2 separate regions of the Homo sapiens genome follow, and region 1 is linked to region 2. The links come from fine-mapping of genetic effects on plasma protein levels. A gene starts in region 2. The other region holds a variant in brackets. All regions are shown on one strand. Distances are from middle to middle.

The links. PIP is the posterior inclusion probability: the model's chance that the variant is causal. Protein levels are from the aptamer-based SomaScan assay of Sun 2018.
Region 1: its variant is fine-mapped to the plasma level of the PLAUR protein (Sun 2018, PIP 0.95). The variant lies in the coding sequence of PLAUR. If it changes the protein, the assay may bind it differently, which can mimic a change of level.

Annotation. Positions count from the first base shown.
Region 1 is chr19:43,644,811-43,657,084 of GRCh38, forward strand. PLAUR (plasminogen activator, urokinase receptor) reads right to left here. Exons shown (of 7, transcript NM_002659.4): 4 at 11,669-11,830; 5 at 10,629-10,763; 6 at 7,415-7,561; 7 at 3,769-4,333. The coding sequence ends at 4,080. Among named protein-coding and RNA genes, the nearest start is that of CADM4, 11 kb to the left of the region's middle. The variant T/C (reference allele first, on the strand shown) is at 7,510.
Region 2 is chr19:43,668,383-43,680,047 of GRCh38, forward strand. PLAUR (plasminogen activator, urokinase receptor) reads right to left here and starts at 1,787. Exons shown (of 7, transcript NM_002659.4): 1 at 1,684-1,787. The coding sequence starts at 1,738. LOC124904724 (a long non-coding RNA gene) reads left to right here and starts at 382. Exons shown (of 3, transcript XR_007067264.1): 1 at 382-801; 2 at 1,644-2,098. RefSeq lists silencers at 286-515, 556-635 and enhancers at 1,556-1,855, 7,052-7,151, 10,935-11,434.

The sequences.
Region 1 (12,274 bases), 23 kb before region 2:
GTTCCAGCAATTCTCCTGCCTCAGCCTCCCGAGTAACTGAGATTACAGGCACCCGCCACCATGCCTGGCTAGTTTTTGCATTTTTAGTAGAGATGGGATTTCACCCTGTTGGCCAGGCTGGTCTCGAACTCCTGACCTCAGGTGATCCACCCGCCTCGGCCTCCCAAAGTGCTGGGATTACAGGTGTCAGCCCCGGAGACTTTAAAAGCATGGCTCTTCCCCTGACGCTTTAAAAGCGTGGCTCTTCCCGTGAGACTTCAACACCTTGGTTTTGGACATTTAGCATTCAGAACTGTGAGAGAACAAGTTTCTAGTGTGTGTGTGTGTGTGTGTGTGTGTGTGTGTGTGTGTGTGTGTGTGTATGTGTTTTAGACAGAGGCTCATTCTGTTGCCCAGGCTGGAGTGCAGTGGTTCAATCTCGGCTCACTGCAAACTCCGCTTCTCAGATTCAAGTGATTCTTATGCCTCAGCCTCCCAAGTAGCTGGAATTACAGAGGAGCGCCATCACAGCCGGCTATTTTTTTTTTTTTTTTTTGTACTTTTAGTAGAGACAGGGTTTCACTGTGTTGGCCAGGCTGGTCTCAAATTCCTGGCCTCAAGTGATATGCCTGCCTTGGCCTCCCAAAGTGCTGGGATTACAGGTGTAAGCCACCACACCTGGCCTAAGTTTCTGTGTGTGTGTGTGTGTGTTTTGTTTTGTTTTTTTTTTTTTTTTGAGTGGAGTCTCGCTCTGTTGCCCAGGCTGGAGTGCAGTGGCATGATCTCGACTCACTGCAAGCTCCGCCTCCCGGGTTCACGCCATTCTCCTGCCTCAGCCTCCCGAGTAGCTGGGACTACAGGCACCCACCACCACGCCCAGTTAATTTTTTGTATTTTTAATAGTGACAGGGTTTCATCATGTTAGCCAGGATGGTCTCGATCTCCTGACCTCGTGATCCGCCCGCCTCAGCCTCCCGAATTGCTGGGATTACAGGCATGAGCCACCAAACCCGGCCAAGTTTCTGTGGTTTTAAGCCACCTTGCTTGTAAGATTTGTGTGTGTGTGTTTTTAATTTTTTATTTTTAAGTATTATGAATACATAATAGTGGTGTATATTTACAGGACATATGTAATATGGTTTTGGGTTTTAGTGTTTTTTTTTTGGAGACAGAGTCTGGCTCTGTTGCCCAGGCTGGAGTACAGTGGTGGGATCATGGCTCACTGCAGCCTTGACCTCCCGGGCTCAAGGGATCCTCCTGCCTCAGCCTCCCATGTAACTAGGACCACAGGCATGCCCCACCACATCCAGCCAATTTTTTTTTATTTTTAGTGGAGATGAGGTCTCACTGTGTTGCCCAGGCTGATCTTGAACTCCTGAGCTCAAGAGATCTTCCTTTCTCACCCTCCCAAAGTGCTAGGACTACAGGCATGAGCCACTGTGCCTGTCCTTCCATGATGTTTTGATATAGGCACACAATGTGTTAGTTTATAAAGTTTGTAATAATTTATCACAGGCAGCCCTAGGAAACTAATATAGCCAAGTTTCCTGTTTCTTCTCTATATCACATCTGCTGGGGCTACATGTCCAAGGTGGCTTCTTCACCCACTTGTCTGGTGCCTGGGCTGAGATGGCTGAAACATCTGGGGCTCTATCTCCACATGGCATTTATACATGAGTAGCTTGGGCTTCCTCACAGCATGGTGGTCTCAGGGCAGTAGTACTTTTACATGGCAACCAGCTTCCCCAGAGTGAGCGTTCTAAGATTCAGAAAGTGAAAAATGAAAGTTTCTTAAAACTTGGTTCCAGAACATAGCACAGCAAAACTTCCACCACATTCTACTGGTCAAAGCAGTCACAGAGTCACTCATATTCAAGAGGCAGAAGTACAGACCTCACTTCTTTAAGCCACTACAGTGACAGGTGGTGATATGTCATTAGAGAAAGCCCTAAACAAGAACCTTGTCCCTCACCTGCCCCCAAATACCATGGAAGATGTCTTTTTTTTTTTTTTTTTTTTTTTGGGGATAGTCTCACTGTGTCATGCAGTGGTGTGATCTTGGCTCACTACAACCTCCTCCTCCTGGGTTCAAGCGATTCTCCTGCCTCAGCCTTCCGAGTAGCTGGAGTTACAGGCACCCACCACCTTACCCGGTTAATTTTTGTAATTTTAGTAGAGACGGGGTTTTGCCAAATTGGCCAGGCTGGTCTCAAACTCCTGCCTCAAGTGATCTGCCCACCTCGGCCTCCCAAAGTGCTGGGATTACAGGCGTGAACCACCACAGCCAGCCGAAGATATCTTATTTTTTCTTCATTAGCCACAAGATTTGATGGGGAATGTAATTTTTGTCTCCATGGGTTGCCTTAGCAAATGATGAGAAGAACATGAATTTTTCAATATTGTGCTCCTAGAGTGCCATTGAAATGGTAGTTCTGTCTCTTTTTCTGACAGTCCTGAGGCATCCCGGGAAATAGAGCCCAGCCTTTATCCCCGGTCCCCAGCACATCAGGGGAAGTGCACTCCTGTCCTTATTCCTCACTGCAGTGCATGCAGGGAGTTCTGGCCATCAGGTTATCTTCTATCCGTCTCCTTTCCCAAAGCATGCTGGGAAATGTGGGGATGTCTCCTTAGAACAACAAAATAGTTGCAACCTTTGAAGTTTAGGAGAAGACTAGAAGGTTAGTGTTCAGTGTGTGATCTGGAAGCTTGCATTTGTAAGAATTAAAGAAAGAGGAGGCCAGGCACGGTGGCTCATGCCTGTAATCCTAGCACTTTGGGAGGCCAAGGTGGGCAGATCACCTGAGGTTGGGAGTTTGAGACCAGCCTGAACAACATGGAGAAACCCTGTCTCTACTAAAAATACAAAATTAGCCGGGTGTGGTGGTGCATGCCTGTAATCCCAGCTACTTGGGAGGCTGAGGCAGGAGAATCCCTTGAACTAGGAGGTGGAGGTTGTGGTGAGCTGAGATTGTGTCATTGCACTCCAGCCTGGGCAACAAGAGTGAAACTCCATCTCAAAAAAAGAAAAGAAAAGAAAAGAAAAAGGAAAAGGAAAGAAACATGAAATGTGGCTTGACGGTGAAGGACAGGTTTATTTTAGAGAAAACCAACCTGAGGGGGGCTTTTGGCTGAGTTAGGTTAGAGAGCCCTTTTTTTTTTTTTTTTTTACAGACTAAGGATATTTAAGAGTTTTGGAAGGGGGTGCTTATCTAGGTTCGGAATGTTTTCATGTGAGGAAAAGTTTATTGTGGGGTTGGAAAGTCTCTGGTCGGAAGGGAGGCTATCTGGGGGTTGGCATGTTTCTGGTCAGAGAGGGGTTTATCTTAGGGTTGGAATGTTTCTGGTTATGCTGATGGTAGCCATTAGGCTGATGTTTTGGGGCTGGATTTAGCTGATTTTTTTTTGAGACAGAGTCTTGCTCTGTCACCCAGGCTGGAGTGCAGTGGTGCAATCTCGGCTCACTGCAAGCTCCACCTCCCGGATTGACGCCATTCTCCTGCCTCAGCCTCCCGAATAGCTGGGACTACAGGCACCCGCCACCACGTCCGGATTTAGCCGATTTTTAATCAAGAGGAACTAAGAATGGTGGTGTTTGTTCAAGATGGCAGTGCTCCTGCTCTGTCAGCATTTGGAGTCCAGAAATAGATGTGGAGGCAGCCCCCAGGAGGACTTCCAACCTAGGCAGGGGCCTCAAACATGACCCCTGATTCCAGGAGCCTGTGAAAAGGTGTCCCCCACCATTTATCCTCCCAAAGATAGACACTACAAAGAAGGGCATACCTGGCCTTGTCCACTGGTACAAAATCTTTATGTAAGTATAAAATAAATAATATGAATATTAATTAATAACAACAACACAACAGCGGCAACAATATTAATAATAACAAGAGCTCTCCCATTGGCCCACGGCCTTCCTCCAGCTTTTCTCTTCTGCTTCACACAACTTTGTGAGATAGCTGTTTTCATAGCTGGGAAAACTGAGGCCCAGAGAGGTCGGCACACTGGCCTGAGGTCACACAGCAAGTCTGTAGGGCTGGGAGCCGAGGGAAGGGCAAAGGGGTCCCCCGGATCCAGCCAGGGCAGAGAGGGGGATTTCAGGTTTAGGTCCAGAGGAGAGTGCCTCCCCACAGTCTGGCAGTCATTAGCAGGGTGATGGTGAGGCTGAGATGGGCAGGGCCAGGCTGAGGAGCAGCCCCACTGCGGTACTGGACATCCAGGTCTGGGTGGTTACAGCCACTTTTAGTACAGCAGGAGACATCAATGTGGTTCATGCTGAAGGCGTCACCCAGGTGGGCATGTTGGCACATTGAGGCGGTTGCACAGCCTCTTACCATATAGCTTTGGTTTTTCGGTTCTGAGGAAAGAGAAGACGGAGTGAGACTTCCAGCTCCTGGGCCCAGGACTGGAATTCTCCAGTAGGTGACCTGCCACCTTGCAGTGGGTGCCACCTTCACTACCACCTAGAGAAAGCAGCAGTTCTCAGGGCCAGGTGTGGTGGCTCATGCCTGTAATCTCAACACCTTGGGAAGCCAAGGAGAGAGGATAGCTTGAGCCCAGGAGTTCCAGACCAGCCTGGACAACATAGCAAAACTCTGTTTCTACAAACATAAAAAAGAAAAAAACAGCTGTAGTCCCAGCTACTTGGGAGGCTGAGATGAGAGGATCACTTGAGCTCAGGAGATGGAGGCTGTGGTGAGTTATGATCACGCCACTGCACTCCAGCCTGGGTAACAGAGTGAGACCCTGTTTCAAAAAACAAATAAAAAGAAAGAAAGGAAGGAAGGGAGGGAGGGAGGGAGGGAAGAAGGAAGGGAGGAAGGGAAGAAGGGAAAGAAAAGAAAGAAAGAGAGAGAGAGGGAGGAAGGAAGGAAGGAGAAGGGAAAGAAGGAAGGAAGGGAGGAAGGAAGGAAGAAAGAAAGAAAGAAAGGGAAAGAGAGACAGAGAAAGAAAAGGAAAGAAAAAAAAAGAAAGAAAGGAAGCGAGCAGCGGTTCTTAAAGTGTGGCTCAGGGACCCCAGAGACCCTTTCAGGAGATCTGTGATTTCACATGGCTTTTTCACTCTCATAAGTGTACAATGGGCTTTTCCAAAAACTCCAGGACATGTGATATTGCAAGAGACTGAAAGCAGAAGCTTCCATGAGGACCCAGCTGTCTTCTATTAAGCTGGACATTAAAGAGATGTGCAACACAGCAAAATAATGCCAGTTTTCTCATTACGCTTTTTTTTTGTTTTTTTTTTTGAGATGGAGTCTCACTCTGTCACCCAGGCTGGAGTGCAGTGGCACGATCTCGGCTCACTGCAACCTCTGCCTCCCGGGTTCAAGCAATTCTTCTGCCTCAGCCTCCCAAGTAGCTGGGACTACAGGCGCGACCACCATGCCCAGCTAATTTTTGTATTTCTAGTAGAGACGGGGTTTCACCATATTGGCCAGGCTGGTCTCGAACTCCTGACCTTGTGATCTGCCCGCCTTGGCCTCCCAAAGTGCTGGTATTACAGGCGTGAGCCACCGCGCCTGGCTGGTTTTTTTTTTGTTGTTTCTTTGTTTGTTTTTTTAAGACAGGGTCTCGCTCTGTTGCCCAGGCCGCAGTGCAGTGGTGCAATCTCCGTTCACTGCAACCTCCACCTCCCAGGCTCAAGTGACCCTCCCACCTCAGCCTCCCAAGCAGCTGGGACTACAGGCATGCACCACCATGCCCAGCTAACTTTTGTATTTTCTGTAGAGACAGGATCTTGCTATGTTGCCCAGGCTGGTCTCAAATCCCTAGGCTTAAGTGACCCGCCCACCTTGGCCTCCCAAAGTATTGGGATTATAGGCATGAGCCACCATGCCTGGCTATCATTACATTTTTTCTTTGGAAACTATACTTATTTTTCATTAAAATGTTATTTATCTTAATGTGTAATGAGTTTTTATTGTTATAAGATGAATTCATAAATAAATCTTTAAAGATTTCTCAGTTTTGGCTGGGCACGGTGGCTCACATCTGTAATCCCAGCACTTTGGGAGGCCGAGGCAGGCAGATCATGAGGTCAGGAGATCGAGACCATCCTGGCCAACATGGTGAAACCCCGTCTCTACTAAAATTACAAAAATAAGCTGGGCATGGTGGCTCATGCCTGTAATCCCAGCTATGCAGGAAGCTGAGGCAGGAGGATTGCTTGAACCCAGGAGGGGGAGGTTGCAGTGAGCTGAGACCATGCCACTGCACTCTAGCCTGGCGACAGAGCAAGACTCCATTTCAAAAAAAAAAAAAAAAGATTTCTCAGTTTTAATTTTAATTTAATTTTATTTTATTTTATTTTTTGGGACGGAGTTTCACTCTTGTTGCCCAGGCTGGAGTGCAATGGCACAATCTTGGCTCACCGCAACCTCTGCCTCCCAGGTTCAAGTGATTCTCCTGCCTCAGCCTCCCGAGTAGCTGGGATTATAGGCATGTGCCACCATGCCCGACTAATTTGTATTTTTAGTAGAGATGGGGTTTCACCATGTTGGTCAGGCTGGTCTTGAACTCCCGACCTCAGGTGATCTACCCACCTCGGCCTCCCAAAGTGCTAGGATTACAGGCGTGAGCCACCACTCCTGGTTCTCAGTTTTAATTTTAATGTGGCATTTATCTATAGAAATCACTGATATAAACAATAAAGAGTTTTTTTTTTTTTTTGAGACAAAGTCTCCCTCTGTCATCCAGGCTGGAGTGCAGTGGGGTGATCCCCACTCACTGCAACCTCCTCCTCCTGGGTTCAAGTGATTCTCGTGCCTCAGCCCCCTGAGTAGCTGGGGTTATAGGTGCACGCCACCACACCCAGCTAATTTTTGTAATTTTTTGTAGAGACAGGGTTTCACCATGGTGGCCAGGCTTGCTCTCATACTCCTGACCTCAAGTGGTTCTCCTCCTCACCCTCCCAAGGTGTTGCAATTACAGGCGTGAGCCACCACACCTGGCCAAAAATAATTTTTAAAAGCATGAAGAAGTTGAGACCAAAAAGTTTGAGAACCACTGGAATACAGAGACCTTTCCAGGACACCACAGGATGAAAGCCCAAGATGTCTTCAGCAAATCCCCACAACCCACGAGAAATCCACCAAAGAATTCCATTTTTCTTTTTGTAGAGATGGGGGTCTTGCTATGTTGCCCAGGCTGGTCTCAAACTCCTGGCCTCAAGAGATCCTCCGGCCTCAGCCTCCCAAAGTGCTGAGAGTACAAGCTTCAGCCACCGCACCCAGCCGGAATTCCACTTTTCCATGGCAAAAATGTCCACATCCTGATGGACAAGTCCTAATTCCTTACAATAATATTCACCCACCTGAAGGAAATCCCACCTTTTCCACAGGGAGACCCACCACAGTTAACTCCAGCTTAACTGGAAGTCAATCTCTTGCGGAACTCTCCACCCCCAATAAGTGTTCCCTCCCAGCCTCGGAGAGGGCCTCACCGTGAGTGCCGGTGGCTACCAGACATTGATTCATGGGGCCTCGGCAGTCAATGAGGAAAGTCTCTTCAGAGGAGCATCCATGGGTGCTGTTCCCC[T/C]TGCAGCTGTAACACTGGCGGCCATTCTGCGGCAGATTTTCAAGCTCCAGGACTTAGGAGAAGACCAGAGACACAGAGACCAAGAAAATTAGTGCTTGGATCTCCACTTCCTTGAATGACCTCCCCAGGACTTCCACTCCGAGCCAGAGATGTCATGGAGCCACCTTGTGGTCAGGCGTCTGAATGGCATTTGGAGGGGGATGGTTTTCGAGGGCTTGAGAGAAACCCCAACTTTCAACTCCCCATGAGTCCCATTTCTGGCCAGGCACCGTGCTGGGTGCTGGGTAAAACTATGTAAGATGAAACTGTCCTTGCTCTCACAAAAGTTACAACTTATTTATTTATTTTTGATACAGGGTCTCAGTTTGTTGCCCAGGCTGGAGTGCAGTGGCGCAATTGTAGCTCACTGCAGCCTCGACCACCCCGGCTCAAGAGATTCTTCCACATCAGCCTCCTGAGTAGCTGGGACTACAGGCGTGCACCACCATGCCTAGCCAATTTTTCTGTTTTTTGTAGAGATGGGGTTTTGACACATTACTCAGGCTGGTCTCAAACTCCTGGGATCAAGCAATCTGCCTGCCTCAGCCTCCCAATGTTCTCGGAGTACAGGTGTGAGCCACTGTACCTGGCCAGAACTTACAAGTTATTACTATTATTATTACTAAAAAATTTTTTTTGAGACGGAGTCTTGCTATGTTGCCTAGGCTTGTCTCAAACTCCTGGCCTCAGGCGACCCTCCCGCCTCCGCCTCCAAAAGTGCTGGGATTACAGGTGTGAGCCACTGTGCCCAGCCAGAATTTACAATTTAGAGCTACACTACCCAATCTGGTAGCCACTGGCCACATGTGGTTGTTTACATTTAAATAAATTAATATTAAATCGAATCTTAAAATTCAGTTCACATTTCAAGTGCTCACTGACCACATACAGTGGTGGCTGTAATATTGGACAGGACAGATAGGGAACATTTCTATCTGTTGACAGTGCTGGGTAATAGAGACAGGGATCTAGATTACACTGGAGGGGAGGGACAGTGAAAGCATCCCTGAAGATGATACATTAAAGCTGAGGCCTAATGGATGAGAAGTTGCCAGCAGGGTGAACTCTTGGGGAAGATGTGTTCTAAGGGAGGATATTCATCTGCAAGGGCCATGAGACCAGATGGGCTTTGGTGATTATAGAAACCAAATGAACGTCAGCACAGCGGCTCATGCCTGTAATCCCAGCACTTTGGGAGGCCGAGGCAGGAGAATCGCTTGAACCTGGGAGGCGGAGGTTGCAGTGAGCCAAGATCACGCCACTGCCCTCCAGCCTGGCTGACAGAGCGAGACTCCATCTAAAAAAAGAAAGAAAGGAAGAAAGAAAGAAACTAAATGAAGGCCAGGTGCAGCGGCTCATGCCTGTAATCCCAGCACTTTGGGAGGTCAAGGCAGAAGGATTGCTTGAGCCTGGGAGTTTGATACCAGCCCCGGCAACATAGTGAGACCCCATCTCTACAAAAGTTTTAAAAATTTAGCTGGGTGCGGCCGGGCGTGGTGGCTCACGCCTGTAATCCCAGCACTTTGGGAGGCTGAGTCAGGCGGATCATGAGGTCAGGAGATCGAGATCATCCTGGCTAACACAGTGAAACCCTGTCTCTACTAAAAATACAAAAATTAGCCAGGCATGGTGGTGGGTGCCTGTAGTCCCAGCCACTCGGGAGGCTGAGGCAGGGGAATGGCGTGAACCCGGGAGGCGGAGCTTGCAGTGAGCCAAGATCGCGCCACTGCACTCCAGCCTGGGCAACAGCGCAAGACTCCATCTCAGAAAAAAAAAAAAAATGTAGCTGGGTGCAATGATGCGCATCTGTAGTCCCAGCTACTTGGGAAGCTGAGGTGGGAGGATCACTGGAGCCCAGGAGTTTGAGGTGGCAGTGAGCCGTGATTGTGCCACTGCACCCCAGCCTGGGTGGCAGAGCAAGACCCTATGTCTAAAGAAAACACAAAACCCCAAAAACGAATCTAAACAAAGACTGTGAGGCAGACAGGTGCCAGATTACATAGGCCAACAGAATAAGGTCTTTGGATCTTATTCTAAGAGGAAGGGGAAGTCATTGAAGTGCCTGAGAAAGGAGGGTGACATGATCTGATTTACATTAAAAAATAAAAAATTGGTGGTGCATGGTGGCTCATGCCTGTAATCCTAACACTTTGGGAGGCCAAGCCCAGGAGTTCAAGACCAGCCTGGGCAACAAAGCAAGACCCCATCTCTACCAAAAATACAAAATTAGCTGGGTACGGTGGCATGCACCTGTAGTCGCAGCTACTCCAGTAGCTTAGGTGGGAAGAATTCCTGAGCCCAGGAGTTTGAGGCTGCAGTGAGCCATGATCATGCCAGTGCACTCCAGCCTGGGTGACAGAGCGAGACCCTGTCCCCCCCATACCCCCCAAAAAATCACTCGCTGCTGGGTTGAGCCTTGGCTGTAGGGTGGCAGGAGTGGAAGCAGGGAGACCAGAGAGGAGGTCATTGCAACAACCTGGGCAAGAAGTCAGCGTGGCTCAGCCCAGGTGGTGGCAGTGGAGCAGGGGAGGAGTGGGAAAATTTGAGAGAGACAAAAGAGACAGGAAGCACAGGTCTTGGCGAGGGCTGATAGTATCATTGAATCCTTACGAAGTTCTTCTTTGAAGAAAGGCCTGGCTGGGTGCAGTGGCTCATGCCTGTTACCCCAGCACTTTGTGAGGCTGAGGCAGACAGATCACTTGAGGTCAGGAGTTCGAGACCAGCCTGGCCAACATGGTGAAACCCCCATCTCTACTAAAAATAGAAAAATTAGCCAGGGGTGATGGTGGGCACCTGTAATCCCAGCTACTCAGGAGGCTGAAGCAGGAGAATCGCTTGAACTCGTGAGGCGAAGTTTACAGTGAGCGGAGATCACGCCATTGCACTCCAGCCTGGGCAACAGAGTGAGACTCCGTCTCAAAAAAAAAAAAAAAAAAAAAAAGGCCTGATACTCCCATTTTTCAGAAAAGCAAACAGAGGCCCAGAGAGGACTTGATTGCCAGAGAGTGACTGCGCAGCTGTCTGCCTGAGTGCATGCCCCTGCCCGACCCCAGGCCTTGCCTGTGTCTCCCGTTCCTTACTTGGGCCCTCGTTGCATTTGGTGGTGTTGCAGCATTTCAGGAAGTGGAAGGTGTCGTTGTTGTGGAAACCATTGGAGCCCGGGCAGCCGGGAAGGTAGCCACAGCCACGGAGGTGGCGGTCATCCTTTGGACGCCCTATGGGGGCCAGGGGACAGAGGTCAGATGTCAGATTGTGAATGAGGGACTAAGATGGGATTTGCCCGAAATAGCAGGCATTCAACCATTCTCTACTTCACCCTTCATCATAAGACCCTCATTTTATCTAGAACAGTCATAGATCTTGTCGAAAACTACATATTCCAGCCTCTCCAGGTAGTCATGTGATGAAGTTCGGACTAATGTGATATAAATAGAAGTGCTTTATGGGACTTCCAGAAAGGAGAACCCTTACAAAAGGAGGAGTGCCCCCTTTTTTGTCCCTTCTTTCCTTCTTCCTCCTTCCTGGAACTTAGATGTGAGACCCGGAGCTCTGGCAGCCATTTTAGACTATGAGGCATTTTGAGAATGGAAGTAATGTGTAAGAAACAAGAGGGTGGCCGGGCGTGGTGGCTCACGCTTGTAATCCCAGCACTTTGGGAGGTTGAGGCGGGTGGATCACAAGGTCAGGAGTTTGAGACCAGCCTGACCAACATGGTGAAACCCCATCTCTACTAAAAATACAAAAATTAGCAAGGCGTGGTGATGCACACCTGTAATCCCAGCTATTCAGGAGGCTGAGGCAGGAGAATCACTTGAACCTGGGAGGCGGAGGTTGCAGCCAGCCAAGATCATGCCATTGCACTCCAGCCTGGGTGACAGAGAGCAAGACTCTGTCTCAAAAAATAAATAAATAAATAAATAAAAAGAAATGAGAAGGCATCTGGGTTCCTGGTGACTCTGGACCTGTCCTTGTGGCCCTGGACTTCCTATCACTGGACCTCTTGTGTATGAGAGAACTTAGTCCCTTGCTGACATCCCTGTTACTTTGGGGTTGTTTGTTAAGTGCAGTCTTAGGGAGGAGCAGAGCAGGGAGGAGGAGTTGCCAGCAGGTTGGGGCTCACCTTCTTCACCTTCCTGGATCCAGTGGGTCACCACATCCAGGCACTGTTCTTCAGGGCTGCGGCACTGCAGGCTCTGGTGCCGGCCCCTCTCACAGCTCATGTCTGATGAGCCACAGGAAATGCATTCGAGGTAACGGCTTCGGGAATAGGTGACAGCCCGGCCTGTTTGGAAGAGGGGGAGGGGAGTGAGACTCCATGGGGACAGTCCTGGAGCCCCAGCTCTGCAAGGACTCACTCAAAATCAATTCCTCCTTATCCCACCCTGCAGCCAGTCATTGAGCCCTGCCTATTCTGCCTGCTGAATCTTTCTAGAATCCACCCCCTCCTTTCCAGCCCCATGGACCAGTCCAGCTCAGACCTCCTTCAACTCCAGCTACCTCCCTAGCCTCTGGGTTTCCATTCTTGTCACCCCCTACTCACCCCAGTGCAGCATCTCCACATGGCCCTAGAAACATTTCTTTCCTTTTTTTTTTTTTTTTTCCCGAGACAGAGTCTCACTCCGTCACCCAGGCTGGAACGCAGTGGCACCATCTTGGCTCACTGCAACCTCCACTCCCCGGGTTCAAGTGATTCTCCTGCCTCAGCCTCCCGAATAGCTGGGACTAC
Region 2 (11,665 bases):
TGACCTTATCTTCCCGCCCCCTAGCTCCTCCCCGATGCCATAACCCCGCCCCTAGCTCCTCCTCGAGGCTTTAGTCCCTCCCTCTAGCTCCTCCTTGAGATTCTAACTTCGCCCTTTAGCTCTCCCCGCCCCTAGTTTTCCCCTGAGGTCATAACTCCGCCCCAGTCCCTTCTTGAGGTTTCAGCCCCACCCTGTAGCTCCTCCCCGAGGTCGTAACCCCCGCCCCTTGGCCCCTTGAGGTCCTAGCCCAGCCCCGTAGCTCCTCCCCAAGCTTATAACCCCGCCCCTAGCCCCTCCTTGAGGTTCCAGCCCCGCCCTCTAGCTCCTCCCCGAGGTTATAATCCTGCCCCTCAAGAGTCTAGTCCCACCTTCTAGCTCCTCCCGAGGTTATAACTCCGCCCTCTGGTTACGCCTCGAGGTTATAACCCCGCCCTCTGGCTCCGCCTCGAGGTTCTAGCCCCGCTCCTAGCTCTTCCTCGGTCTGTAACCTCTCCCGTAGCTCTTCCTTGAGGTTCCAGCCCCGCCCTCTGGCTCCTCCCCGACACTCTCTCCCCGCCCCAGGCTCCGCCCCGAGATTGCAGCCCAGTCCCTAGGCCCGGTCCCCGACCTCCGGGCCTTCCCGGACATCCCTTTCCAGCTGCGCGTTCGGAGTATCCCGGAGCTGTTACTCATTCCCGGCCTCCCGCGGTCTCGAGCGCTTTCCGGGTTATTCATCGCGGCCCCAACACCCTGTGGCCACCCGCCCTGACTCAGTTCCTTCTCGAATTCCTCGACCCAGAGCCCCCCACATTTTCCGGGGAAGTAAGTGAGAGTCGCCTCAGTGAGAGGGAAAGGTCCTGAGGGACAGTCCCGGGTCTCCAGCACTGGCTCTGCGCCGCTCAGTCAGCCTCCCTTTGGGCCTTTTGTAAAAGGGGGTCCTGTCCCCCCGTTTCTCAGAGGGGGAGACCCAGCAGCGTGGAGAGCGCTGGGGGGCGCTGCAGGGTCAGATCCTGCGTATTCAAGCACTGGCTGTGTGATTTTAGGCCAGTTATCTAACCTCTCTGTGCCCTAGTTTCCTCTGCGAAACGAAATTAATAAAGTCCCATCGCCTAGTTTGAAATTGCAAGGAAGAGGCTTCGAAGAACTCCATTTAAAAAAAGAACACTTGGGCCGGGCGCGGTGGCTCACGCCTGTAATCCCAGCAGTTTGGGAGGCCGAGGCAGGTGGATCATCTGAGGTCAGGAGATTGAGACCATCCTGGCTAACAGAGTGAAACCCGGTCTCCACTAAAAATACAGAAATTAGCCGGGCGCGATGGCAGGCGCCTGTAATCCCAGCTACCCAGGAGGCTGAGGCAGGAGAATCGCTTGAACCCGGGCGGCAGAGGTTGCAGTGAGCCGAGATCGCGCCACTGCACTCCAGCCTGGGCGACAGAGTGAGACTCTGTCAAAAAAAAAAAAAAAAAAAAAAAAGCACTCACTAAATTATGTAAAGCTAAATGCCTTTGCTCCACTAATATTTCCTTAGCTACTGAGTGCCAGGTACTGCGCCGCGTGGCGTTGCACAAAGCACGAGAATTACTATTATTTGATTAGGGAGGATGCTGAGGACTGAACCGCATTCCTCCAACTCATCCTCTGACAACCCCCAACCCCCTCAATTAGACCCTGTTCCAGGCGCAGGCGTTCGGGACCCAGCCCCTACCTGGGACGCAGGTGTGGAGCAGCAGCAGCAGCGGCAGCAGCGGCGGGTGACCCATGTCGCGAGGGCAGCTCCTGTGCGCGGGGTCCCTGCACGTCTTCTCTCCTTCTGGCCTCAGGAAGGAGGCAGTTTTGTGGCCCCAGGGACTCCTCCCAGACGTTTTGCGAAAGAGCGAGTCAGCCCCAGATGCGTGGGCGCCTCCCCCTCCTCCCGTACGAACCTCCTCCGCCACAAACTTCCCTTCCCGGGGCGCGGCCGGCTGGTGGTGAAGGGGCTGGCTCGGCCCTGACTCATGGAGTTGTGATCACAGCTCTGTCCCCAGATTGCCTGGGTGCAAATCCCAGTTCTCTCTCTTCCTAACGTGGGACCCGGGGCAATCGCTCTCCACTGCTGTAAAATGAGGATAAAAACTTTGACGGTAAATATGAATGTGGCTGATTATTTGGCTAACAGGATTTTTGTTAGTTTTGTCAGGAGGGATACTGGTATTTTGGAAAATGTCCTTATCTAGAGATGCATCCTGAAATATGCATCTCTTAAACACTTAAAACACTTAACCCTTGCTTTGCTTCCCGCTGTGCCCCCAGCTCCTGGACCAGTGCCCAGCACGAAGTAGGTCCTTGGTAAATGTTAAAGGAATGTGTTGAGCCCTCCATTTTGGCCAGCAGCTATTCCAGGCATTGCACCTACATTAAAACACTTAATGGTGAAACCCCGTCTCTACTAAAAATACAAAAATTAGCCGGGCGTAGTGGCGTGTGTGTGTTACTTAGGAGGCTGAGGCAGGAGAATCGCTTGAACCCGGGAGGCGGAGGTTGGGTTGCAGTGAGCCGAGATCGTGCCACTGCACTCCAGCCTGGCAACAGAACAAGACTCCTTCTCACAGAAAAAAAAAAAAAAAAAAAAAAAGACACTTCAGCCAAAAAAGTAGATATCACTGTTACGACAATGGCTGTATGCTTAGGTGGGATTCTGGTTTTTGTTTGTTTGTTTGTTTTTGCAGATGCTTACTAGAGTATTTAGTGGTGAATGTTATTGATGTCTGCATTTTTTGTTGTTGTTGTTTTGGGGATTTTTGTTTTGTTTTTTCTTTTTCTTTTGTTTTCATTTTGATGTCTGTATTTATTTTATAATATTTTAGAAGAGGTCAGATGAGGTGGCTCATGCCTGTAACACCAATGCTTTGGGAAGCCAAGGCAGGAGGATCACTTGGGGCCAGGAGTTCAAGATCAGCTTGGGAAACATAAAGAGCCCTCATCTTTCCAAAAGAAATTAAAAATAAAATAAAATTAGCTGGGTGCAGTGGCCCGTACTTGTAGTCCTAGGTAGTTGGGAGGCTAAGGTGGGAGGACCGCTTGAACCTGGGAACTGGAAGCTGCAGTGAGCTATGATTGCACCACTGCACTCCAACCTGGGCAACAGAGCGAGACCCTGTCTCAAAAAAATAATAAATAAATAAATACTTGAGTAGAAAATAAAGGCAAAATAGCCAAATGGTTGTATCAATTATATAAAGGTAATCAGTATATAAGGGCATATTATGCCATTCTGTCTCCTTTTCTGTGGGTTTGAAAAGGCTTATAATAAGTTTTTTCTTTCTTTTTATTATTTATTTATTTATTTATTGAGACGAAGTCTCACTCTGTCACCCAGGCTAGAGTGCAGTGGTGCAATCTCGGCCACTGCAATCTCCGCCTCCTGGGTTCATGCAATTCTCCTGCCTCAGCCTCCTGAGTAACTGGGATTACAGGGGCACGCCAGCACACCCGGCTAATTTTTGTATTTTTAGTAGAGATGGGGTTTCACCATGTTGGTCAGGGTGGTCTCGAACTCCTGACCTCAGGTGATCCACCTGCCTTGTCCTTCCAAAGTGCTGGGATTACAGGCATGAGCCACTGCACCTGGCCAAGTTTTTTTTTTTTTTAAGTAAAATAAAATACTAAAGATAAAATTGTCTCCCCGTCTTAGGATGCATCTAACTAAACAGAGCAATTTAATGTAGGTGCAATGCCTGGAATAGCTGCTGGCCGAAATGGAGGGCTCAACACATTCCTTTAACATCTACCAAGGACCTACTTTGTGCTGGGCACTGGTCCAGGAGCTAGGGGCACAGCAGGACGCAAAGCAAAGTTCCCACCTTTTGTTGTGTTGACAGTGGGGAGCAGATATGTGTTATCTAATCTTTCACTGTCTGAGAGGGATAAGCAAACTGGAGAAAACAAAGCAGGCTGAAGGAAGTATCTGGGTGCAAATGAGGTGTGAGCTGTTTTAGGTGGGTGATCCAGGAGGGGTTCCCTGAGCAAGTGGCATTCAAGCAGAGGCTGAATGCAGTGAGGGAAGAAGTAGGGCAGATGGGCAGGGAACCTTTCCAAGGAGCAGGAACAACCAGTGCAAAGGCCTTGAGGTGGAAGCCTGATGAGATTCTAGGAACAGAAGAGATGTCAGTGTGGCTGGAACAGATTAGGAGAGGAAGAGAGTCGTAGGGGATGAGTAAGTGGTAGCTACTTCTACTGCTGTAATAATGATTATACTATGTGATTTGTTGTCGTTGTTGTTGTTGTTTTTGAGACAGAGTCTCACTTTGTCTCCCAGGCTGGATGCAATGGCGTGGTCTCGGCTCACTGCAACTTCCACCTCCCAGGTTCAAGGGATTCTCATGCATGCCTGGCTATTTTTTTTTTTTTTTTGAGTCGGAGTTTCTTTCTTGTTACCCAGGCTGGAGTGCAATGGCACGGTCTCGGCTCACTGCAACTTCTGCCTCCCAGGTTCAAGAGGTTCTCCTGCCTCAGCCTCCTGAGTAGCTGAGATTACAGGCATTCTCCACCATGCCTGGCGAATTTTTTGCATTTTTAGTAGAGATGGGGTTTCACCATGCTGGCCAGACTGGTCTTGAACTCCTGACTTCAGGTGATCCACCCGCCTCAGCCTCCCAAAATGCTGGGATTACAGGCTTGAACCACTGCGCCCAGCCCTAATTTTTGTATTCTTAGTAGAGATGGGGTTTCGCCATGTCGGCTAGGCTGGTCTCGAACTCCTGACTTCAGATGATCAACCTGCCTCAGCCTCCCAAAGTGCTGGGATTACAGGGGTGAGCCACCGCACCCGGCCCTAATTTTTGTATTGTTAGTAGAGATGGGGTTTCACCATGTCTGCCAGGCTGGTCTCTAACTCCTGACTACAGGTGATCCACCCACCTTGGCCTCCCAAATTGCTGAAATTACAGACATGAGCTACCGCTTCCAGCCTGTACTATGTGATTCTTACTAACTCATTGAAGCTGTAAGCTAATGATTTTAAGATAAGGTTAGAAAACAAAAAACAAAAAAACTCCCAATGGTGAGCACAGTGGTTCATGCCTATAATCTCAGCACTTTGGGAGGCGAAGGCTGGAGGATTGCTTGAGCTCAGGGGTTCGAGACCACCCTGGGCAACATAGTAAGACCTTGTATCTATAAAAAAATAAAATTACAGCCTGGACAACATAGCGAGACCTTGTCTCTATGAAAAATAGAAAAATTAGCCAGGTGTCGTGGTGCACACTTGTGGTCTCAGCTACTCTCTGGTTGAGGTGGGAGGATCACTTGAGCCCCAGGGGTTTGAGGCTGCAGTGAGCCAAAATCGAGCTACTGAACTCGAGCCTGGGCAACAAAAGTGAGACTGAAAAAAAAAAAAAAAAGAACTCCCAGAGAATTTCCTAAGAGGTAGTATAGCCCAATGGTTAAGAGTGTGGGAGCTGGTCTCAGATTGTGAAAATCTAAATTGCATCTACATATTGGCTGTGTCACCTCTAGCAGGTTACTTAATCTATCTCTGTGCCCAAGCCCCTTATCTGGAAAGTAGAGATAGCAAGTATCACCCTCCCAGGGCTGGTGTACTGCGGAGGTAAAAGAATCCACCTAAAATGACTGAGCATGGTGGCTCATGTCTATAATACCAGTGCTTTGGGAGACCAAGGCAGGTGGATCACTTGAGGTCAGGAGTTCAAGACCAGCCTGGCCACCATGGCAAAACCCTGTCTCTACTAAAAAATACAAAAAAATTAGCTAGGTGTGGTGGCATGCACCTGTAGTCCCAGCTACGCAGGAGGCTGAGGCACGAGAATTGCTTGAACCTGGGAGGCAGAGATTGCAGTGAGCCGAGATCGCACCACTCCACTCCAGCCTGTGCGACAGAGCTAGACTCCATCTAAAACAAACAAACAAACAAACAAAAAGAAGAATGCTCCTAAGATGCTTGCCACAGTGCCTGGTACATAGTATGTGCTCAATAAAAGCGATAGCTGCCAGTATTATCATTGTTGCAACTCTGGACATTCACCTCTTCCTGGAGTAGGAAGGGAGATGGAGGCCTGTCATTGAGTCTGACGTCAACAGTTATCACGCGTCAGCTGCTGAAGTGGGCACTTCCCTGGCTGGGTCACCCTGGGCCAATGACATTCTTCTTTCTGAGCCTCAGTTTTCTCAGCTGGAGAAGGGGATCCCTCTTGGGCTGGTGTGAAAACTAAACTAGATCGGAATGTACATGAGGTGGGGAAATAGACAGTTGGGGTGTTGGTCCAAGCAGGCTTGAGACCCAGCTCAGCCACTTGCTTCTGGGTGACCCTGGGCAGATGGCTTCACTCCATCAATCCCCGGCTTTGCCACCTATGAAATGGGTCTGGGGTGGGTAGGGGGCATCTCTCAGTGAAGAGAAAACTCAGGTTTGAGGGTCATGCGGAGCTGTGTGCTGTGCTGCTACCACTTCCTGGTGGGATGACCTCACTTCTCTAAGCCACAATTTCCCAATTTCCCTTTTTTTTTTTTTTTTTTTTTTTTTGAGACAGAGGCATGATCATAGCTCACTGCTGCCTTGAACTCCTGGGCTCAAGCGAAACTCCCACTTCAGCCTCCTGAGTAGTTGGGACCTAGGGGTGTGCACCACCATGCCTGGCTATTTTCTCATATTTCGTGTTTTTTGTAGAGATGGAGCCTTGGTCTGTTCCCCAGGCTGGTCTTGAACTGCTGGGTTCGAGTGATCCTCCCGCCTTGGCCTCCCAAAGTGGTGGGATTACAGGTGTGAGCCACTATGCTCAGCCAATTTCCTCTTTAACGAATGAGAGGTATTTCAGAGCCCACTCATCCCTGCCCAAGGCTGCCCTCGCCTCCTGAAATTTCTGTCTCTCCCTGTGTCTTTGTCTTTTTCTATCTCTCTGTTTTGTTGTTTTCTTTGTCTCTGTCCCTCTTTCTCTCTCTCAATGCCTATCTCTCTCTCTCTCCAACTCTATCACTTTCTCTCTCTGTACCTCGATCTCTGTATCTGTTTGTCTCTCTCTTCATGTCTTTTTATCTCTGCTTCTCCCTTTTCTCTGTCTCTCCCCATGGCTCTCTTTCTCTTTCTGTGTCATTGTTTCTGTTTCTCTTTCTGATTCTTTCTCTCTGTCTCTCCCTCAAGTGACACACACACACACCTGTAAGGTTCTGCTGACGTGTAAAGGGAAGGGAAATGCAGGGATCAGGACCTGGACACTCTCCAGAAACACGGCAGGGATGTCGGCTCCTTCCTCCTCGTGACTCACCTGGGCCTCACCCAGCTCTTGCCTGCCTGCGGGATCATGGGTGAGGCCCATGGGTTTCGGGGGCTTCCCCAGCCTGTGGAGAGGAGAATTTCAGGCAGAGACAGAGAGGGTGATAGAGGAGGAGGCAAAGAGAGGGAGAGACAGAGAGAGAGAGAGAGAGCTGGGGATAGAGATGGAGGTGGGGAAACGAGGGAGAGGGAGAGAGAAGAGACCCACAGACAGACTGGCTCAGGGGAAATCTGAGATGGGGGTGTGGGGGGAGTGAGAGAGACAGAAAACAGCAACCGAAGAACAAGGACAGGGAGAAAGAAAAATGGGCAAGCAGGGAGAGAGAGAAGATAAGAGACTGACAGAGGAGTTAGAGAAAACAACACACAGTTGCCTTCAGAGAACACAAAATAGACACAGAGATACAGGGACACTGTGTGTGTGCGTGTGTGCATGTGTGCGCGTGTGTGCATGCGTGTGCATGTGTGTGAGTGTACGTGCATGCGTGTGTGCGCACACATGTGTTTGTGTGCATGTGTGTGCATGTGTGTGTGCGCGCACGTGTTTGTGTGCCTGTGTGTGTGTGTGTGCATATGTGCATGTGTGAGTGTGTGTATGCATGCATGTGTGTGAGTGTGCCTGCATGCATGCGTGTGTGTGTGTGTGTGCACCTGTTTGGGGCTCCCTCATCCTCTTGCCACCTGCCATGATGAAGTGACTGCCCTCTGGCCTGGCCGCTGGGAAGGTCCTTCTCTGGTTGGGGAGGTGGGGGGGATGGGGGGTGGCTGAGCTGATGGTAGGGAAAGGGCCATCGCTCATAACCTCCCCTTTCTGGGACGCCTAACAGGCCACACTGATGTGGCTTTCAGATCCTGGCCTGGACACCTCTTAGATGTAGAGGACCTCTCCACTCAGGGCCTCCCTGGGGAGTGGAAGAGCTGGTAAACCCTTGAGTCCAATAACCCTCTTCCCCCGTTTTCCAGGCAGAGAAACTGAGGTCCAAAGGGAAGACTTTTTATTTTTTTGAGATAACGTCTGGCTTTATCGTCCATGCTGGAGTGCAGTGGTGAGATCTCAGCTCACTGCAACCTCCACCTCCTGGGCTCAAGCCATCCTCCCACCTCAGCTGCCCAAGCAGGTGGGATGACAGGCGTGCACTACCACGCCTGGCTAATTTTTGTATTTTTTGTAGAGACAACATTTCACCATGTTCTCCAGGCTGGTCTTGAACTCCTGAGCTCAAGCGATCTGCCCACCTCCACCTCCCAAAGTCCTGGGATTACAGGCATGAGCCACGGCGCCCGGCCTAAAACAGGAGACTTTAAATGAGTTTCTCCCCGTCTCAAGTTTATTGTGTTTGTGTTACAGTGGGTACTGTTTTGAGAGTATTATCTATATTATTGGTGAATCTGTAAATATCCTATTTCGTACACACACACGGAAACTGAGGATTAGAGAGGTGTGGTGGGCTGAGAGATGGTCCCCGAAAATATCCAGGTCCTAAGCCCTGGAGCCTATGGGTGTTACCTTAAAGGAAAAAAGGGTCTTTGCAGATATGATTAAGTTAAGGAACTTAATCAGGAACATTTTCCTAATTATCCAGATGGGCCCTAAGTGTAATCAGAAGTGCCCCTGGAGGAAGGAGGGACAGGGACATTTGACTGTAGACAGAAGAAAAGTAAGTCATGGGAGAGAAGCAGAGGAAAACAGGGTGGGAGACAGAAGGTATTTGCTGCGGGCTTTGATGATGGAGAAATGGCCAAGAACCAAGAAACGTAAGAAATGCAGCTCCTGCTGGAAAACGACAAGGAAATCACTCACCCCGGACATCTCTTGACCAGGGCACTGCTCTGCTGACACCTTGATTTTGATTACATGAGACACATTTTGTACTTCTGACCTCCAGTCTGTGAGAGAATAAATTTCTGTTGTTTTAAGCCACTAGATCTAAGCTAATTTGTTACAGCAAAATAGGACACCAATACAAGAGGTTAACTCACTTGCCTAAATTGAGCTGATATTTTTTATTTTTTGAGACACGGTCTTGCTCTGTTGCCTAGGCTGGAGTGCAACGGCAGGATCATAGCTGATTGCGGCCTCCAGTTCCTGGCCTCAAGTGATCCTCCTGCCTCAGCCTCCTGAGTAACTGGAACTACAGGCCCATGTGACCAAGCCTGGCTGATTTTAGAGAGCTTTTTTGTTTGTTTGTTTGTTTTGAGGTGGATTCTGGCTCTGTTGCCCAGGCTGGAGTACAGTGGTGCAATCTCAGCTCACTGCAACCTCCACATCCCAGGTTCAAGCAATTCTCCTGCCTCAGCCTCCTGAGTAGCTGGGATTACAGATGCCTGTCATCATGCTCGGCTAATTTTTGTATTTTAGTAGAGACGGGGTTTCACTATGTTGGCCAGGCTGGGCTTGAACTCCTGTCCTCAGTTGATCCACTCACCTTGGCCTCCCGAAGTGCTGGGATTACAGGCATGAGCCATCGTGTCTGGCTGCCTGGCTGATTGAATTTTTTTTTTTAATAGAGACGGTGGGGGAGGGTGGGGGGTCTCACTATGTTGCCCAGGCTGGTCTTGAACTCGTGGCCTCCATCATTCCTCCAGTGTTGGCCTCCCAAAGTGTTGGAATTAATAGGCTTGAACTACCACATCTGGCTTCTAAACTGACTTGTTAGGCCAGGTGTGGTGCCTCATGCTTGTAATCCCAGAACTTTGGGAGGCCGAGGCGGAAGGATCACTTGAGGTCAGGATTTCAAGATCAGCCTGGCCGACATGGTGAAACCCCGTCTCTACTTTAAAAAAATATAAAAATTAGCCTGGTATGGTGGCAGGTGCCTGTAATCCCAGCTACTCAGGAGGCTGAGGCATGAGAATCACTTGAACCCGGGAGGTGGAGGTTGCAGTGAGCCGAGAACGCGCCACTGCACTCCAGCCTAAACAACAGGGCGAGACTCTGTCTCAAAAATAAATAAATAAATAAATAAAATAAGATAAACTGACTTGCTAAGTGTAGTGTCAGGATTTGAACCCCTGCATTCTGGCTCTGTTTCCTACACTTACACCCACCATGCTGAGGGGTGCTGCCCTGGAGTAGGGCAAGCAAAGACTAGGAGCTATTAATAGAAGTTTCATCCTGTTCTCTCCCAGCTCCCGCCTCTTTCCATCTCATCCTTCAGCAGCCTTCTTTGCTATGCCTCTCTCTGGCTTCATGGTATTAGGGGTGACTTGGAAAGAAGCAGGGACCAGAGGAATAATATTCACTGAGTTTGTGTAAAGAAAAAAGCTTTCCTTGCCTCTAGCACCTTGCAGCTCTTTTATTCCACCGCCTAGATGCAACAGCAGAAATCATCTTTGCAATTCAAGGCCTAATATTCTGAATATATAAGGAGCTCCTGTTATGGGTTGAATTGCTTCCCCTCCACACCAGAAAAACATAGGTTGAAGTCCTAACCCCCAGTACTCAGAATGTGACCTTATTTGGAAATAGGGCTGTTGCAGATATAATTAGTTAAGTTGCAGTCATACTGAAGTAGGTTGGGCCCCAAATCACTATGACTGGCATCCTTATAAGAACGTGGCCCTAGGCCGGGCGCGGTGGCTCACGCCTATAATCCCAGCACTTTGGGAGGCTGAGGTGGGTGCATCACCTGAGGTCAGGAGTTTGAGACCAGCCTGGCCAATATGATGAAACCCCATCTCTACTAAAAATACAAAAATTAGCCAGGCGTGGTGGCGCGTGCCTGTAGACCCAGCTACTTGGGAGGCTGAGGCAGGAGAATCGCTAGAACCCATCAGGCAGAGGCTGCAGTGAGCCGAGACTGTGCCACTGCACTCCGGCCTGGGTGACAGAGTGAGACTCCATCTCAAAAAAAAGAAGAAGGTGGCCCTGTGACGACAGAGAGACACAGGAATAATGCCATGTAAAGACAAAGGAAGAGAGTGGAGCTAGGCAGCTGCAAGCCAAGGACCGCCAAAGATTGCCAGAAAGCCACTGCTGCTGGGAAGAGCCAGGTAGGAGTCCTCTATGGGTTTATGGCCCTGATGACACCTTGATCTTGGACTTCTGGACTCTGGACTGTAAGACAATACATTTGTCGTTCTGACCCACCCAGTCTGTAGTACTTTGTTACAGCAGCCATAGGAGGCTAACAGAGCTTCTATGAATCAATTGGGTGGAGCACAGTGGCTCACGCCTGTAATCCCAGCACTTTGGGAGGCCAAGATGGGTGGATTGCCTGAGCTCAGGAGTTCGAGACCAGCCTGGGCAACACCATGAAACCCCGTCTCCACTAAAATACAAAAAATTAGCTGGGCATGGTGGAGTGCACCTGTAGTCCCAGCTACTTGGGAGGCTGAAGCAAGAGAATTGCTTGAACCTGGGAGGCGGAGGTTGCAGTGAGCTGAGATTGCACCACTGCACTCCAGCCTGGGGGACAGGGTG